Linked DNA regions of Homo sapiens: region 2 is linked to region 1. The links come from fine-mapping of genetic effects on gene expression. Tissue or cell type: gastroesophageal junction. Region 1 holds a variant in brackets; the other region holds the start of a gene. All regions are shown on one strand. Distances are from middle to middle.

The links. PIP is the estimated chance that this variant, and not a neighbour inherited with it, causes the effect.
Region 2: GTF2A1L starts here. The variant in region 1 is fine-mapped to the expression of GTF2A1L in gastroesophageal junction (GTEx, PIP above 0.99). The same link has a PIP of 0.9 or more in esophagus muscle.

Annotation. Positions count from the first base shown.
Region 1 is chr2:48,731,542-48,734,302 of GRCh38, forward strand. All of the region lies in intron 10 of STON1-GTF2A1L (STON1-GTF2A1L readthrough), which reads left to right. All of the region lies in intron 1 of LHCGR (luteinizing hormone/choriogonadotropin receptor), which reads right to left. Among named protein-coding and RNA genes, the nearest start is that of LHCGR, 23 kb to the right of the region's middle. The variant GATGGCAT/G (reference allele first, on the strand shown) is at 1,443.
Region 2 is chr2:48,616,286-48,619,046 of GRCh38, forward strand. It overlaps GTF2A1L (general transcription factor IIA subunit 1 like), which reads left to right and starts at 1,571. Exons shown (of 9, transcript NM_006872.5): 1 at 1,571-1,610. The coding sequence starts at 1,590. The region is part of intron 3 of STON1-GTF2A1L (STON1-GTF2A1L readthrough); the gene reads left to right.

The DNA.
Region 1 (2,761 bases):
CTGGACGCAAATCTTCGCTGTCCCACTACTTGGCTATGTGATTCTAAGCATGTTATTTAAGCCCTCCAGCTCAGTTTCTTTGTCTGTAAAATTGCAATAATAATTCCTACTTCACAGGGTCATTGTGATAATTAATCAGGATAATCCATGTAAAGAACAGGGCTTGGCACCAAGTATATAGTTAAATAGTTGTAGAGTGATCCTATAGACTTGATTGGGAAGATGGACAAAAACTATGTTGAGTAGAGTGGAGACATTAATGATGAAAATACAACTGGAAATCATGCAGGCAGGAAAACAGAAGATTCATTAAGAACATGCTCCCATCTTGATCTCTACTGTCTTTCCCAGGTAGCCTATTTCAATATTATTCCAAAGAGACAACTTTGATCCTATGGTTAACTCACATGGGCATCTCATGTCATTTGCGGGGAATGTCTATGAGATCATTTCCTTCAGGCATTCACTTATACCCACAGGAAAAATCTAAATATTCTTGAAATTGAAATAAAATCTATGCTGTACTTAAGATTTGAGAAAAGAGTGACACTCAGAAATGCAAAACCAGTATAGGATGATGTGTGAATGCTAAAGGAACTGGAGGTTAAGATAACTCAGGAGAAAGCAACTGCAAGGCAGGGACGAACATGCAGCCAACATTTATTGAGTATCTACAATGGTTTAATGTTTTGGCCCAAGGACTGGCAGAGAGGAAGGGAGTGGGCAAGGATATTTCAGGTGGGAAGTGAGTATGTGAGTATCAGGAATATGAGAACAAAGGTGAAAGATGCTGTCTTGTTTTTAACATGTCTATGCAGCAGAGACTGCTTTAAGCTTCTAGGAAAGAACACCTCCATGATGGGCAGATGAAAGTAAGATTTCTTACAGTCCCAGAAGGGACTTGCTACAGTTGTAAGCTACTATGTGAGTTATACACACCCATTTGTGACCTTCTTTTACTCACTCAACAATGGTGTGAGGTGGGAATTTCTCTTACATAGCAGAAGAAATTGGGTCACAAAGAGACTAAGTAACCTGAACAAGGTTACAACGAGGCAGAATGACTCCAGACATCCTTTCCCTGTGCAATACTGGCCAAAGCATGTCACTCTTAATCCCATGTCTTGGTGAGCAAGGTGGAGGGACAGACATTGCAACCTTGCTTCTCCTGAGAGGAAGCATGTCACATTCGCTCTATTTCTTCTGCAAAGCGGTTTACCAGCCGTTCCTCCCTAGGTGCTAATAGGGAGGAAATTTCATTTCAGAAAAATATTTTCACTCAATAATCTCTTAGAAATGATATAACCTAGAGAAAGTAATCCAACTTTGGTCTCTGATTCTATTCCCGAAGGCATTCCCAAGAAGGACATCGTTTAACACCTAAACTCATTTAACAAAGGATCCGAGAAGAACAGGGACAGTGTGGGAAGAAATCTTCTTGT[GATGGCAT/G]ATTTGCTTCCTATATTTCTTCTGGAATCATGTTCGCTTGGCTTCCTGATTAAAAACACAGTTTTATTGCTCTCTGCACTGCCAAACCAATAAATTTACAGAAGAGAAAGCTGTATTCCACTGTACCCCTTGCAGCATCAATAAAACTGACAGCCAAATTCTGATTCCAGAATCTTTATTGCTGGGGATAATGCAGTGCAGAACATATTTTGGAGAGTGTTTACATAAAAGCTTCAGCAGAACACTTCAGAGCTGTTTATTCATGCAAATGGAGCCCAGAAGCTGAAGTCTCTCAGCAGGCAGCCTCCTCCTCCAAATGGGAGCATGGTGTGACTCCCAGAGGAGCAGTTTGGTTCAGATTTGATCAGGGAGGTTGCCTGAGCTTTTGATTGATGTAGGGAGGAGGGATGAGGAGCAAAGGTCGGACAGAAGTGCAAGAAGCTGTAGATCATGCAATGGCAGTCTCCAGTGGCTACAGAAGCAGCCCTGGTGCAAGCTGAAATTTTGCAGCGTTGATGTTGATGCTGCAGAGCAGGAAAGGCAGCAGTGGGGAGAGTGAAACTAGAGCCTCCCCTATAAAAGAGACACCAAGTGAACAGCAGGTGACTTTGTGGATATGGCTGGGTCAAGAAAGAGTCCTGGGGGCCAGGGAATGGGGAGAGAGGTGGGGTTAGGCAGGTGCACTGTGCTTTTCACAACAGATGTGTTCCCATGAGGCAACACAGAGAATGTGGTCCTGTGAATCGAAAACCATTTTCCCTACAGACTTATATGTTTTTTTTTTCAGAAATGTCACATCTTCATTTCTGATTCGTCTTTGATGGGTAGCAGTTCCTAAGCATTCAAGTATCTGTCTCCAGAATTTATTAATAAAGTTTATGATTTGTTGATAACTGTTTGAATGTACTCCCTTTGAAGGTGTCCCACTCTCTATTGGATGCATCTATGATTCTTTCCATGATGCCAGAAACTTTTAGCAATGTGAACAATGATCTTAATAACCCTGCAATTCCACTCCTGTATACATTGAGAAAAATTCTCAAATTGATACTTAAAGGAATCTTGTACAAACGTTTTCTTCACAGCATTGTGGCATCAGGGGCTTGGAGGCAACCTGGGTGTCCATTACTAGGTGAGGGAGTATGTAAAATTTGGACCGTACACACCTAACTGAATAGGAGAGCCTGTAGAAGTGAGAGTCTAAAGGCACACAGAGTAGCATGGGTGGATCTTCAAATCATGGAACTGAGAGAAACAAGAAATTACGGAGATATAATATACTGTTTGCAGAATTAAAATATATGTAAACGAA
Region 2 (2,761 bases), 120 kb before region 1:
CTTTTTGTAAAAGAAATTTCTAATAGTTTTCAATGTAGGAAAGTTTTCTAAAGGGTATCATATAAATCAGCTACTTGAAACTCACAAACCATAAGGTACCTGACCCAGGCAAATCACATACACAGTGGTAGGGGATAAACAGCTCTACTGCACTTACTTGCACAAATAAATAAATAAACAGCCAATTTTAAATATAATAGAGTTTTTAATCATCAAATAACGTATCCATCTGGTTAGGTCAAGACCTATTTGCAGGATAGAAAGGCTGTTTAGAAGAGTTGTGGCCAAGTGCGGCGAGTCATGCCTATAGTTCCAGCACTTTGGGAGGCTGCGGCTGGTGGATCACTTGAGACCAAGAGTTTGAGACCAGCCTGGGCAACATGGCGAAAACCTGTCTCTACAAAACACACACACACACTCACACACACAAAATAGCTGGGCGTGGTGGCACACACACCTGTAGTCTCAGCTCCTTGGGAGGCTGAAGTCAGTGGGTTGCTTGAGCCCAGGAGGTAGACGCTGCAGCGAGCTGTGATCATGCCACTGCACTGCAGCCTGGGCAACAGTGTGAGACCCTGCCAAAAAGGCAGAGTTGTGGCAACAGATGGTGACTTCTTCCCTTTTCTAATCCTCCAGGTTATCTGTGCTTACATCTTCCCTCAGTCTTAGCTAGGTAACGTATGCCCCAAGATGCTCTGCCCTTCAGGAGAGAGAATTATTGTAGGTAGACAGCTGGTGATTTCTGCCTAACTAAGAAAAGGAGATAGGAACGTATTAGCTGCTGACTTTCTTTTAGCAGTGGTTTTCCACCTTGGCTGCATATTAGAATCAGATTTTGCCGAGTGGGATCCAGGCACTAAACTTTTTTTTAAAGCTCCCCGCGTGATTTTAATGTGCACCCAAAATTGAGACTCTTTGTCTTAGGTCAGGGGGTCTCATGTCAGCGCCCATTGGAATCACCTGGAGAGCATGTTAAAGTTACAGAATGCTAGGCTCCATCCTCCAGTCTGATTCAGGAGGGCTGGGGTGGGACCCATCATTTGCATATTTAACAAGTTCCCAGATGCTGCTGATGCTGCTGTACCACGCTGACAAGTCTTAGAAAAATTTGGCTCTTGTTATATTTTTATACAACAAAAAATGGAGTTCAGCTGTGAGTGGGGTGTAGGGGGAGGAATGAAAATTGGTAAATGCAGAGGACAGATATCACTAGTCTCCCCTCTTTTCTTTCCCCATCTTCTTCAAAGCTGAAGTTAGACTGAGATCTACCCCTGCATTTCCCCTCCTCGATTTTCATCTTTCACGGATTGAGGAAACAACCTGTGAACGGCCCAAAGCCGGCTAGACCCAACCTAACCATCCGTTTTAGCGGGTCTCTTTTCTCACACAGGCCGACCGCCTCTCCGCCTTGACCCCCACCTCCACTCAAACCCGCTCCATCTATTAACGTTCTCTTCTGCCCAGCCACGCCCCCGGCGTTCTCCGTGGTTGCGCACCTGACGTACATCGTTCAAAACGTGCCCAGTGTTTCCCTCCGAGGGCACTGCGTGCCGCGCAGGCGCAAAGGGCCAGGTGCTGGAGGTGCTGTCATGGCCTGCCTCAACCCGGTGGTAAGGAAGACCTCAGGCTCTGTGTAGAGGGAGCGCCCTGGGACTCCGGGTTCACGGCAGCCGAACCCTGCACCTTTTGTTTCCCCCTGACACTTTACAGATTGTCATAAACCCTCTCTCTTCCTTAGGGGCTGGGGCTCTTCTTCACGTCTGTGTTGGAGGAAGCTGCTGAGGGCCAGTAGTTCAGCAGGAAGTTGGGCCAGCCCCGCCAAAAGAACAAGTGCCCTTTTTCTCTTTTTACCCAAACTGAGGCTATCTAGTTGGGGTGTTTAGAGGTGGAACTGATCCTCAACCCTGCTGGTTTCCTAGATACTAGAAAACCTCCAAGTTCGGTTGTGTTAATTTTACCGTGGACATTGTTAATTCCAAGCTGTATTATTTACTGCTTGAAATAACAATGTGATATCTCATGTTACCTCCCCACATGTTTTTAGTGTCTTTCACTACCCGCCCATTTCGTTGTCCTTTAACAACTTAATGCTTAAGTGTACAACCTACATTACCCTCCTACCTCTAACGGACACTTAATTTGCACAGTGAGAATTTCTAGTCTCAGTGGCACTTAGGAGACCATCAATCTTAAAAACCTGAATCAAAGAACAAAAATCAAGGATTCATCTTTATTACCAATTCATCTCAACAGACTTCACATTTCGTGAAAGGCAATGTGCCTGTCCAGATCTGTGTAATTTTATGGGTTCCGGGTATTATATATGCAGTATAACAGCTCCATTTTTAGAGACATGCTACTTTAATTATATGTGTTTTATGATAGTGCGTTTTAAGATACATAAAATACCTATACTCTGCCTGAATATAAGGTTACTATGTATGCCAATTTATCTGATTGTGAATTCTATGAAGGAGTGTCTGTATTTTAAATAGAGGAGTTAAGATGGACTAGACATAGTTTTAATAACAGGGATGCAATACAAAGTCTGTGGTCATAGAAGAGAAAATATGTTCAATACCTATTTTGATTTCTGAAAAACTGTGTTCTAATGGGTACTTTTTGACTACTGCTGTGTTAAGATTTTTTAGACCTAAGAGTTTTTTCCTTCGGTGTTAAGCGTGATCACACTAGCTGGGACTACCACTGAAGCATCAATTTAGTATGCCTTTATCAGGATAAACTGTTTTAGAAGAAGCAC